Linked DNA regions of Homo sapiens. The protein of the gene in region 4 purifies or fractionates together with the protein of the main gene of each other region. This does not show direct contact. Each region holds a gene or a part of one and is shown on either strand. Other genes may lie near its edges.

Region 1 (2,427 bases), on a different chromosome or scaffold from region 4:
GTTTTTCTGGAAGGTGCAGAGTCGGCTTTCCCCAGGGACACAGGCTCTCCCTTCCCTGAGGCAAGGGGCTCTGCTTTTCTGCAGGATCCAGGATCCACCTTCTCTGAGGCCTGTGGTGTCTCCTTTTTCAAACACACAGCCCCTGCTTCCCCTGGTGCTGCAGCGCCCTCTTGCCCAGGGAGCTTTGTTTCTGCTTTGCCACCAGACTGCGGCTGTGCTTTCCCCGAGGCCCTGGGATCCGCCTTTGTGGTGGTAACAGGACTCCCCTTCTCTAGAGGCAGAGAACCCACTTTTCCCTCTGGGATAGCTTCTGCTTTTCCCAGGGACACGGGATCCACCTTCCCCGAGGGCACCGGGACTGTTTTTCCTGGAGTTGAGACCACTTTACCTATAGACACAGAGTCCCCTTGTCCAGAGGGGCCAGCGTCTGCCTTTCCCTTGCTCACAGGGTCCTCCTTGCCCACCGCGAGGGGCTCGGCCTTCCCTGAGGCTGTGGGAGCCGCCTTTCCAGAGGCCACCAGACCTGCCTTCTCCGAGGACAGGGGATCTCCTTTTCCCCCCGTCGCTGGCTCAGCCTTTACTGCAGATGGGGGACCTGCTGTCCCCAAGGACCTGGGATCGCCTGGACCTGAAGACACAGGGTTTGTCTTTCCTGAAGACTCAGGATTCACTTTTTCAGATGATGTCTTTCTACTTCCAGCAGATATGGGGTCCTCCCTTCTGGAGGACACCGGGTCCTCTTTTCCTGGGGATACAGTTCCTGCCTTTCCCACAGACACACGCTCTGCCTGTCCAGGAGACAAGAGCTCTGGCTTTCCTGAGCACATGGGGTCCATCTTTCCCAGAGAAACTGGATCCACCTTGCCTGAAGACATGGGATCCACATTTTTCAAAGATGTGAGATCTGTCTTTGCTGAAGCCGTAGTATCCGTGTGGCCAGACACAGGACGCCCCTCTCCTGAGGAGGCAGGGTCCATCTTTCCCAGGAACCGGGAGTCCTCTTTTGTGGCAGGCACAGTTTCTACATTTCCCACAGATGCGGGATCTGCCATCCCCAAGCATGTGGGATCCAGCCTTCCCAAGGACCCAGGAGCCCCGGTCCCAGAGGATACAGGCCCATTCTTGCCTGATGAGCCTGGAATCAGCTTGCCCAGGAGCCCCGGCTCTGTCTTTCCTGTGGACGCAGAATCCATGCTTTCCAAGGGCATGGGATCTGCCTTTCCCGAGGGCCCAGGATCTCTCTTTCCCGACAATACAAGATCTACCTTTTCTGCAGATGTAGGAGCGACCTTTTCTGAGGACACAGGATGCTCTTTTCCTGAATACCTGGGCTCCTCCTTTCTTGGGAATACAGGGTCCACTTTGTCTGAGGACACAGGATCCACCTTTCTCAAAGACCCAGGATCCTCCTTCCTCGGTGACACTGTATACGTCTTGCTGGAGCACAAAGGATCTACTTTTCCCAGGGATCCAAGATCTTCCTTTCTTACAGTCATGGGATCCATCCTTCCAGGAGCCACAGGATCCCCCTTTCCCAAGATTTCAGGCTCTGCCTTTCCTGTAAACATGGGATCTGCCTTCCGTGAGGACCCAGGATCCTCCTTTCCTATGGAAGTGGAATCGGCCTGCTTTGAGGACTTGAAATCCATCTTCTCTAAGAACATGGGATTTCTGTCATCTGAGGATTTGGGCTCAGTTTTCACGGAGGACACAGGCTCTGGCTTCCCAGACGTGGTGGCTTCTGGTGTCCCTGAGATGGAGGCTCCATGTGCCTCCAATGTCTCCTTGGAGGGTGACTCCTGGGGAGAGAAGCAGGTTGGGGAGGGGCAGGCCAGGCTCCCTCTGGGGCCGTCAGAGCAGGAGGCCCCTTCCCCAGCCCCACTGGGGCTTCTGTGTCTAGACTCCATGCCTGGGCTTTGGTCAGGGGTGTGCCTGGGGGGTGCAGGGCTTGCCTTTTGCTGGGAGGGGCAGTAATCCCTCATAGCCGAGCTGCCAGCCCCCAGGCTCCCATCCTGTGGGCAGAAGAAGGCTGTGGGTCGGGGTCCTGGGGGGCTGGAATCCTTTTGAAGCAGCTGGAGCCAGGCCGGGTCTTCAGCAGTGTCCATCTGCCCTCATGACCACGCCTGCACCCAAGGCTGCTGTCTGGTTCTGAAACAGAGAGAGAGCTGACTCAGACTTCCCAAAGCTCAGTGGGGGAGGAGACTCTGCCTTCTCCCCTTCCTCACTGAGTGCTGTGTCCCATCTGGTCCCCACCTGTCCAGAGGACCTAGACTAAAAACACAAACCCAAGCATGTCACTCCCCTGCTTCACTGCTCCCAGTGGCCCTCTGTATAAAGACGTCTTACAAGGCATTCAACGCCCTTCACAACTTGGCCACAGCCTAACTTTCTTTTTCTTTTTCTTTTTTGAGACAGAGTTTCGCTCTT
Region 2 (3,500 bases), on a different chromosome or scaffold from region 4:
TTATATTTTTTCCACTAATACATTTTAACTGTGTAGAAATATAGTACTTCATAGGATTAACACACATATTAATAGAGGTTTAATCACTGAAGAAAAGCATTATGCTTACAGAATATGCATCTTCTAGGTTTTTTGTTTTTTTTTAAATGGCTAGGTGGCTGAATAGCATACCCTTTACAGGCACAGCAAACCGTCTGAATAGCAGCTGCTCAGTTTAACTTATTCTTTTAAAGGGAAATATATTCTAACAGGACATGTAGCTGTTGAAAATTTTTAAGAAAAACCTGATAGACACCAATTTAAAATTGTTTCAATTTAGACTCAAAATGAGACCACTACAAATAGTCAACAGCAGGGGGATGAGACAAATGTATATTAAACAGTTTGTTGAAATGCTTTCCAAAGATCATAAACAAAAGCAGCCTGTTTGTAGCATAGCTCCTGGTGCTTCCCTGGGCATACACAAACAGCACTATTTAGAACTGGTCTTCTTGGAGCTGGCCCCTGCCACCACTGCTCCTGAAGCTTACATCTGTAGAAACCTGCACATTTCCCTGCAGGTTCTCTGATACTGTATCTTGAACTAGAGCACCAGTCAGTTCAGTTGCAGGTTTTGAGAACATTTTAGCTGCCATCATGGTAGGGCTAAGTGTTCATAATAATAAATTTTGCTTCCTTCAAGAAACCAGTTTGCAGACGGATGACAGCAGTGATCAAAGTCACTTTAGTTTCTGCAATTTCCAAAAGTACTTCCATTTGTTTCAAATTCATTTGCTGTCACACCCTTTGCTAAAACGGCTACCAGCAATATCACTAGGGCTGTTCGGTAAACAGTAAAGTGGTCAACTTCACCAGAAGCCACTTCAACAGCTACCACAATTACTGGTTCCTTTTTAGTCACAAGTATCCTCACTTCAGTTGTGAATATATGGTATGGTAATTCTGAATGACAGTCATATGGAGTAATGGGCAAAGGCAATAAAAACAAACTCTTGCCACTGCCTGTCATGACCTTGATCTTCCTCTGCTGCTCAACATCATCAAGAGGTGCTCCTTCATATTTTTCTAAATGCCACCCACAAAGCCATTCTCACTGTCTGGTGGGCACCCTGAGAGCCTTTGCTGGAAATGCCTCCCTGGCTCAGCCTGCCTACCAAGCTCCAAGGCCCTTCCCTTCACGGCCGACACGAGGCCAGCCTGGAAGGAACCCTGATGAAGCTGCTGTTTCAGGGTCATATTGGTGCCATCTGTGAGGAACTCCATGACTCAGCAAGGATCCTTGCACTCTCATAGGTAACTCAAGGCCCCCAAAGTGGTGCTGTGGTTGTCCGAGTGCCCAGGGAGCCTCTCGAGTGTGGTGAGCGTTGGATGATGCCCCAGCAGTGCTTCTCAGACCGCCTGAGGGGAACGCTGGAGCTTCCTAACTCAGGAGACCAATTTCTAAATACAAAAAACACTCCTAATGGGGAGGGGTCAGGGGCACAGGGATCTTCATATCTCAAGGCTTCTGTAAAAACAGACCTTCAGATAAAATGTGGAAAGACTAGCAAAAGCAAATATACAATGTGTGACTCAGGTTGAAGCTACGTAACTTCTCAATAGTCCAGAGGCCCTAAGACCTAATAGTGGCCAAACAATTATTTCAAAGGCCAGACATATGCCCTTTAAGGGCTGTTTATACCCTACTGGTCACATGAAAAGATATAAATGAATGAATGAATGAATGAATGAAAAAGAGAAAGGAGCTTGAACTGGCAGATAACTTTTTAAAAGCCATAAAGAGGCCAGGCGTAGTGGTTCATGCCTGTAATCCCAGCTCTTTGGGAGACGGAGGCGGGCGAATCACAAGGTCAGGAGTTCAAGACCAGCCTGACCAACACAGTGAAACCTCGTCTCTACTAAAAATACAAAAATTAGCCAGGCATGGTGGCGCATGCCTGTAATCCCACTGTAATCCCAGCTACTCAGGAAGCTGAGGCAGGAGAATCGCTTGAACCTGGGAGGTGGAGCTTGCAGTGAGCCGAGACTGCATCACTGCACTCCAGCCTAGGCAACCGAGCAAGACTCCGTCTCAAAACAAAAAATAAAATAAAATAAAGATATTTACTGTGCTATGTTGTTCTGGTAGTATACTTGTAAGATTTTTGCCAAAAACCACCCAAAAAATATTTTTCAATTTATCAAGCAGATTATTACACATCAAAACCTACCAAGTAATGATGGAAAATATGAAGTTAGTTTTTTTTTTTTTGAGACAGTCTTGCTCTATTGTGAACTGTTATACTAAAGATAGACAGATATAGTCTTATGCCTATTTCCATTATCTGCATAATGTAACCTTTAAAAATATTCCTTAAATTGTTAACTTTATAGGAATAAGATACTGGAAAATGGTTAGAAAGTTCACCAAAACCTTACAAACTCACATGTCCTCAACTGTAATGTCCTTGAGGATCTGGCAGTAGTCCACATTCCATACAGCCTGATCGTCCCAAACCTTGGAGGCAAGAAGAATGGCTCCCAGAACAATCCTTTTCCAGTTGGTGGGACAAATGTCGATTTCAGCATAAGTTAAAAGCCTTTCTAAGTAAACCTGTAAAATAGAGCACTGGTCTTTGATTTTAGTTCAGTTTAAATGCTTTGATAAGCTTTTTTTTTTTTTTTGAGACGGAGTTTCACTCTTGTTGCCCAGGCTGTAGTGCAATGGTGCGATCTCGGCTCACAGAACCTCCGCCTCCCAGGTTCAAGTGATTCTCCTGCCTCGGCCTCCCGACTAGGTGGGATTACAGGCATGCGCCACCATGCCCAGCTAATTTTTGTATTTTCAGTAGAGACGGGGTTTCTCCATTTTGGTCAGGTTGGTCTCGAACTCCTGATCTCAGGTGATCCACCAGATCCTCCCAAAATGTTGGGATTACAGGCGTAAGCCACCGCGCCCGGCCCCGAAATGCTTTGATAAGAATTCATGACTGACAAATTTCTTTTGTTTTTGACCAGAAAATAAGTGCCTTTTATTCTTATGTTCTACAGAGACTTTGCTTACTCAGCCAAAGCAAGACACTAAATCACAGTTGTAGGTCAGATATCTCTGCTGCCTATTCTGCCCATATACATTTCCCACCCAGTCACAGGAATGACTGGACATCTCAGCAAACAGCATCATCAAGAGAGGCACTCTTATCACCTCCACACCCATAATAGAGTTGTTCAATAAATAATGAGTGCCTACCAGGTACAATGTATCATACTTGCATGGTAGATAGTAATTTTACAGGTAGCTATATTATGCTCAAATATGTAAAACCCAAGTAATACTGAGCACATTTTTACCTTCTCCTTTTCACAGTAACTAACCCTTTTGTGGCACTAGCTTGAAGAACTGCTGGTCAAGAGAGCCACCCAGTGGCTGCTGTGCAGAGCAGCATGACAGGTCTTTAGGCTGTAAAATATTCCCCGTATTCAGTGCCTCCACAAGGAACACAGATGGACAAAAGGATGTC
Region 3 (3,500 bases), on a different chromosome or scaffold from region 4:
TAAATTCTAGACATCATATTATTTCATTTGTAAATATTTCAGTACGTATCTCTGAAAGACACATACTTTTTGAAAGGCAATTATAATGCCATTATCACAGCTTAAAAGTTTTTTCCAACAATAATTCCTTAATATCATCAAATATCTAGGTCGATACTCAAATTTCCCAACTGCCCCATAATTTGGGACTCAAATAAGGGCTATACAATATGATTGATTTGTCTTTAAGTATCTTTTAATCTATAGGTTGTCTCTCCATTCTTTTTTATCTCTTACAATGTATTTGTTGAAGAATCCAGTTGGTTTGTTCTGTAGTGTCAACCTCTATGGATTTTGCCTGTTGTATCCCTGTGTTATCATTAAGCATGTTCCTCTGTTCCCTGTATTGCCTATAAATTGGTCATCAGTTCTAGAGGTTTAATTAGATTCAGCTCCAATTTTTTTTGGCAAGGCTATTTCCTAGGCAGTATTGATTTCTTCCATTAGGAAATGCAAACTATCTAGTCGGCTTCTTTTTGTAATGTTAGTAGCCCTTGATGATCATTGTCTAGATCCACTATTTCCTAGAGGCTGCAAGATGGTGACATTCTAATTCTATCATTCCTTCTTCATTGAAATAACCTGAATACCTCTTTAAACAAAAACTTCCTCATCAGCTCTCAGATTGCCCAGGTAAGAAATTCATAAAGAAAACACAGAATAAATGGTGATTCTTTCCCTTAACAGTTGTCAGAATAAAAACCTGATTTCCTAGCATTCTCTCATGCTGACCAATGAGATTTCCTCAGAAGTAACATTAGAAACTCATAAATTTAAATGTATTTAATGGGTTTCAATTCTTGGAAGTTGTTGCCCTAATTGATGCTCAAATTGTCCTATCTTTGGCCAGTGGGAGTCTCTTCAAGTTCGTTCCCAAGTCCTTTCAGTGTGACCCTACTGTCTTTAGGAGCTTCCATGTTTTCTAATAAGAGGATGTTCTGGGTTTATCTTGTACCTCTGCTGCCCCTGACTTGGTACCAGCCATTTCTCAAAGAAGCCTGTACATTTCAATGGAAAATAACATATTATTATTGGGTTGGTCATTTTTCCTAGGCCCTTTCAAAGAACACAGCAGGGAATATTTTTGTTTTATTTTAGATAAAATACAATGTGATCCTTGCAATTCAGATGAAGGAATACAGAGTTTTTCTTAAACTGTCATTAATCTTACATCTGTGTATCCTTTTTGCTATGCTGAAAATCCGTTAGCAACATCACCGACCTAATTACTCATTTGCTCTAAACCACAATACACATGCAACAATCTCAGAATTAGCAATACCTACATTTCCCTAACAAGGGCATGATTTAAAACAATTTACCCTTTTTTGGCCATTTCTTTTTGTCCATATATATATATGGACAAAATATATATATATATATATATATATATGGACAAAATATATATATATATATATATATGGACAAAATATATATATATATATATGGACAAAATATATATATATATATATGGACAAAATATATATATATATATATGGACAAAATATATATATATATGGACAAAATATATATATATATGGACAAAATATATATATATATGGACAAAATATATATATATATATATATATATATATATATATATATATATATGTCTTTCATACATATCCATATTCTACTATGGATGTTCAGTCAAATTGCTGAGTTTTAAACTTGGAATATTTCCTCTCTGTGTGGTTAGGCCAATTACCAGGGTACAATTAAGTTCATTTGATTCATTCTGCTTTTAATTTTTAGGGATTGCTTTTTACTTCAATTTTTAACCATGTCAAGGTTTACATCAGTTCAAAGTCAAATCCACAAAACAAGGTATAATTTTCTAAAAAGTCTATCTTCCATCTATGTTCATTATACCCTATTTCTCTCCTTCCACCTAGAGAAAGGATCTTTACTCTTCATAGAATAAAACTAAATTTTACTTTGCAACTCATCTTTCAACTTTTTATCTGAAATTGAGAAAAACAAGTGTCTGCATGTATGTGTGTGTACACATACACTCTCACCCTTTCCTAGAAAACTGAGGATATATTATCTACATTTTCTCACTTTGCTTTTTTTTTCACTTAAATTACTTCATAATAGCATATAGAGATATTCCCCATTTCTTTCTACAGCTGCATAATATTCTGTTTGTGGCTAGACCAAAGCTTATTCAACTCTTTCCCTATTGATGGAAATAAGGGCTATTTTCAATCTTATGCTACTATCAATTGTGCTAAAATGAACAGACTTGTACATATGTATTTCTATGTACATATATATTTAAATAACTTACAATGTTATAGCTACATAAAACAGTCTTTATATGTGGTATTACAAGATGTTATCTGGACTTACCATGTCAGTAATGTAGATAATATCACCTTCCTCAAAGTATAATTCATCTGGCTAGAAGAAAAAAAAAAGTTTGACTCCATGTGATTTTTCATGAATTAGAATATGATTATATAGATTCAAAATTCTATCATATTCTAATAAGCAATGTGGTTTTATACACTTAAATCAGCACATAAGCCATATAATAAAACACTACTGAAAAATTAACACATGAATAGACGGCTAGATTTTTTTCCCATGATGAACTTCAAAGAATTACATATATAAAGATTCTCCACACACATCTTGCATTCTTCTACAACCAAAGCAAGACATTTGTATATCAAAATAGAGTATTAATAAAACTTCTTCCTTGTAGAAATTCTAAAAGGTGGTATACATTTTTTCATAAAAATATAAATGTCTAGAATTAGAGTCATGAAAAACAGCCAGAAGCTTGATTTTCTCTTAAACAAGGCCTCAATCCTTGAACACTTTAAGATCAACATCTGCTATCTGCTCATTTTAAGAAAATCATTATCCTAGCTCTTCATGTTCAGGGAGAATGAACATTTTCTGTATGAGAAAAGTTAATATGTAATTCAACCATTAATAAGGCTAAAGAGCTAAAAGATATGAAGCAGTAACTCAGCCAGTCCAGAAACCCCAAGCAGCTCTAAGGAGTTGGCTAATTACACAGACCATATGTGCTCTGGCCTGTACCAACCAAATGTTCTAAAAACTTTCTGAGGCCAGGTGCGGTGGCTCATGCCTGTAATCCCAGCACTTTGGGAGACCAAGGCAGGTGGTTCACAAGGCCAGCAGTTCAAGACCAGCCTGGCCAAGATGGTGAAACCCCATCTCTACTAAAAATACAAAAATTAGCTGGGCATGGTGGGGGATGCCTGTAATCATAGCTACTCGGGAGGCTGAGGCAGAGAATTTCTTGAACCCGGGAGGCAGAGGTTGCGGTGAGCTGAGATCACGCCACTGCACTCCAGCCTGGGTGACAGAGCGAGACTCCGTCTCAAAAAACAAAACAAAACAAACAAACAAACAAAAACAACCAAAAAACACTTTCTGAATAAAGATACACATTTTAAACATCTTTTGACCATCAGTAGATA
Region 4 (3,500 bases):
TCTATTTGTACCCAACATCCACTCATTCAGCACGTAATTCAGCACCTCCAAATCCTGGCCCTCAAAGAACACAGCTAAGAACAATGTGTGTGTAATTATCAAGTAATAGGAATGATACTTTTAAAACTGGAAATTATACATTCAAATGAGATTTCTCTCCTTTAACCAGTCCCCTTGGGAGGCAATGCAGTAATTCCAATGGTACTTCATTACTCAAATCATCTTTGAAGCTTTCTTCTTGGAAGCACCTTGAGAACCTGCAGTCTGATCTTCTGACTATCCCAAATGGTGCTAAATTTTCACTGAGGGTGGATTCAAATTTTGGAAATGGCAAACAGTCAGTCAGAGCCAAGGTTAGTGAATAAGATGTGTGATCAAACTAGGTGGAACTATTTTGGTTGAAAATGATAGATGATCATAAAGCAATGAGATGGATCTTCTTATGTGATATGTAAACTGACTTTAAAGGGAATTCCAGATGAGTAACAAGGAGTATGAACAATGGAATAGGTGTATACATTCTCTTTCCCCAAGTAACCTCTTTGAATAACAACACTCATTTGGATGTATAAGCGCCACTAACAGGTTTGTTTTGTTTAATCACTTACAATTTGTAAATAGAGGGTTCCTTAGCATACTGGATCTACAATGTCATGGAGGAAAGGAGTTGTCACTTAACTAGAACTATGGCATGGCACGCAGGAAAGAGCACAGGCTTCATGAGACTGACGTGGATTCGAATGTTGACTTAGATTCTTCCTGCCTATGCAACTTCAGGGAAGTCACAAGCTGTCAAGACTTTAAAATAAGGCTGATACCTAATTTTGCAGGGTTGTTGTAAAGATCATGGATAATGGATGCAAAGCCCCTACATTGGGCCTGGCATGTGGTGGGTACTCAAGAAGTCACAGCTATTATTAACAGCAACATCAGTAAAATCAAGACCATTTTCTGACTGTAGGTGGCTTGAGAGGACAGAACAACAGATAAGCAGTCACTTGAGTGGTAAGTAGTTCATTGACAGTACTGACAGTACACTCGTGCATTAGATACTGCTTTCTTAAAAACAATAACCTGTAAAAACTATTTGCAGTAACTATGTATTTTTAATTCATACGACACATATCATCTGCAGTGCTCATACCACATGGACCTCTTCACTACCTGAACATACCAGGCACTATCATGACCCCATGCCTTTGTGTACTTTGTCCCTTCTGAGATACTGAAAGGGGCCAGCCCCTCCACACCTGTGGGTATTTCTCGTCAGGTGGGACGAGACTGAGAAAAGAAATAAGACACAGAAACAAAGTATAGAGAAAGAACAGTGGGCCCAGGGGACCGGCACTCAGCATACGGAGGACCCGCACCAGCGCTAGCCTCTGAGTTACCTCAGTATTTACTGATCATTATTTTTACTATCTTAGCGAGGGGAGTGTAGCAGGGCAACAGGTGGGGAGAAGGTCAGCAGGGAAACGTGAGCAAAGGAATCTGTATCATGAATAAGTTCAAGGAAAGGTACTGTGCCTGGATGTGCACGCAGGCTAGATTTATGTTTCTCTTTACCCAAACAACTCAGTGTAGCAAAGAGTAACAGAGCAGTATTGCTGCCAGCATACTTCGCCTCCAGCCACAGGGTGGTTTTCTCCTATCTCAGAATAGAACGAATGGGAATGGTCAGCTTTACACAGAGACATTCCATTCCCAGGGATGAGCAGGAGACAGAAGCCTTCCTCTTATCTCAACTGCAAAGAGGCCCCGCTCTTTCACTACTCCTCCTCAGCACAGACACTTTACGGGTGTCGGGCTGGGGGGTGGTAAGGTCTTTCCTTTCCCACAAGGCCATATCTCAGGCTGTCTCAGTGGGGGGAAACCTTGGACAATACCCAGGCTTTCTTGGGCAGATGTCCCTGCGGCCTTCCGCAGTGCACTGTGTCCCTGGTTAATCGAGAATGGAGAATGGCGATGACTTTTACCAAGCATACTGCCTGCAAACATATTGTTAACAAGGTACATCCTGCACAGCCCTAAATCCATTAAACCTTGATTCATTACAGCACAGGTTTCTGTGAGCACAGGGTTGGGACTAAAGTTACAGGTTAACAGCATCTCAAAGCAGAAACAATTTTTCTTAGTACAGATCAAAATGGAGTTTCTTATGTCTTCCTTTTCTACATAGACACAGTAACAATCTGATCTCTCTCTCTCTTCCTCACAAGGTACCCTTCCTACTCTCTGGTCTGATGACAACCCTACAATTCTAGCTCAAAAGTCTGGCTCAAAAGACTAGCTCAATTCAAAATCTAGCTCAAAAGTCATTTCCACTATAGACTCTTCCCTGCCTGCTCGAGACAGAATTAGTAGCTCTGCCATTTGTACTTCTAAGACATTTGGTTTCTTTCACTGTAATGCCTCATACTCTATTGAATTCTTATTTCCCTTTCATTTCTGCTTCTTCCACTAGGCTTACGCATTGAGAGGAGGACTATATTCCTTTATTTTTGTACTTAGAGCACCTAGTACATCACTTGGCACGAGATAGGAATCTAGATGTTTGAGGAATCAATGTTATAATATACTTTGCAAATAACTGTTAGAGGCCAGGTAGCTGACTTTAGTGAACTATATTACCAGCAATCGCATTCCTTTTTCCTGCTTCAAACAAGAGACAAGATAACTTATATGGACTCCAGAATGTCTTCTGAAGATGGAGCATACAGAAGTCTCCAAACACTACTGATCTCATCAGTACCCCATGCCCACAAGTTGGAACCCCCAGAGCAACACTTCTCAGCCTTTGTTCCAGTCTAGCACACCTGAGGGATACACCACACTCCCATCAGGAGCTCACAACAGATGACTAAGAAGGCCCAGCAGAGTTTTCACAGCCTTCCAGTGCCACATGGCTACCAGGGTGGAAGGGCCTTCTCTGAACCAGCAACTCCCCCAAAGTAGCAGAAAATTTCAAGGCTCCATGGTGAGTGCCGGGAGCCCACCTAATGCTACCTACTACCAGATCCCTACCACCTACAATGCCTCAGAATCAGTTTGCCTACTCTAAGAACAGGGCTCTTTCACTGTTAGGAAGCCTCAGGCATTCAAGGAAGGACTTGTTTGTGGGTCCGGTACATCTGTTTCGGCATGTCTTAACCTGCATAACTAAAAAGCAATTATGAAAAGAAGTTCATGATCAACCAGTTCAGTGCCAGATGGAAATAGGTAGAGTGGGTCAGCTGGCAGCCCTGTACATCTGAGTGTTGACACTTGTGAATCATTCTCTGTCACTATAGTTTCCAGAGCCTTGCCAACGCAGCAGTGGGTTCAGACTTACCAAGATCCAAAAGGCTGGAAAGGGGATCTGGAGCCATGACCCATGCCTTGGGACCCACCAAACCATGACAGTGACTATTTCTATGACAAAGACATGCTCTTCAAAGTAAATATAGCCATATTCTGCCTTAGTGCCATGTTCTCTCCCATCTCTCCAAAGCAATGGCTGC

Evidence for each region. Proteins that work in one complex are often made in the same cells at the same time.
Region 1: the proteins of TMEM185A (region 4) and GPRIN1 purify together in Homo sapiens (affinity purification with mass spectrometry; 3 studies listed by BioGRID and IntAct, with this or other methods). This does not show direct contact.
Region 2: the proteins of TMEM185A (region 4) and CCNYL1 purify together in Homo sapiens (affinity purification with mass spectrometry; 3 studies listed by BioGRID and IntAct, with this or other methods). This does not show direct contact.
Region 3: the proteins of TMEM185A (region 4) and OSTF1 purify together in Homo sapiens (affinity purification with mass spectrometry; 3 studies listed by BioGRID and IntAct, with this or other methods). This does not show direct contact.

What each region holds. Positions count from the first base shown.
Region 1 is NC_000005.10:176,597,730-176,600,156, forward strand, and holds part of GPRIN1 (G protein-regulated inducer of neurite outgrowth 1), read right to left. Parts: intron 2,149-2,427; 5' UTR 2,106-2,148; coding exon 1-2,105. UniProt on the Homo sapiens protein: May be involved in neurite outgrowth.
Region 2 is NC_000002.12:207,746,140-207,749,639, reverse strand, and holds part of CCNYL1 (cyclin-Y-like protein 1), read right to left. Parts: intron 2,594-3,500; coding exon 2,427-2,593; intron 1-2,426. UniProt on the Homo sapiens protein: Key regulator of Wnt signaling implicated in various biological processes including male fertility, embryonic neurogenesis and cortex development. Activates the cyclin-dependent kinase CDK16, and promotes sperm maturation.
Region 3 is NC_000009.12:75,126,514-75,130,013, reverse strand, and holds part of OSTF1 (osteoclast-stimulating factor 1), read right to left. Parts: intron 2,446-3,500; coding exon 2,395-2,445; intron 1-2,394.
Region 4 is NC_000023.11:149,625,293-149,628,792, forward strand, and holds part of TMEM185A (transmembrane protein 185A), read right to left. Parts: intron 1-3,500.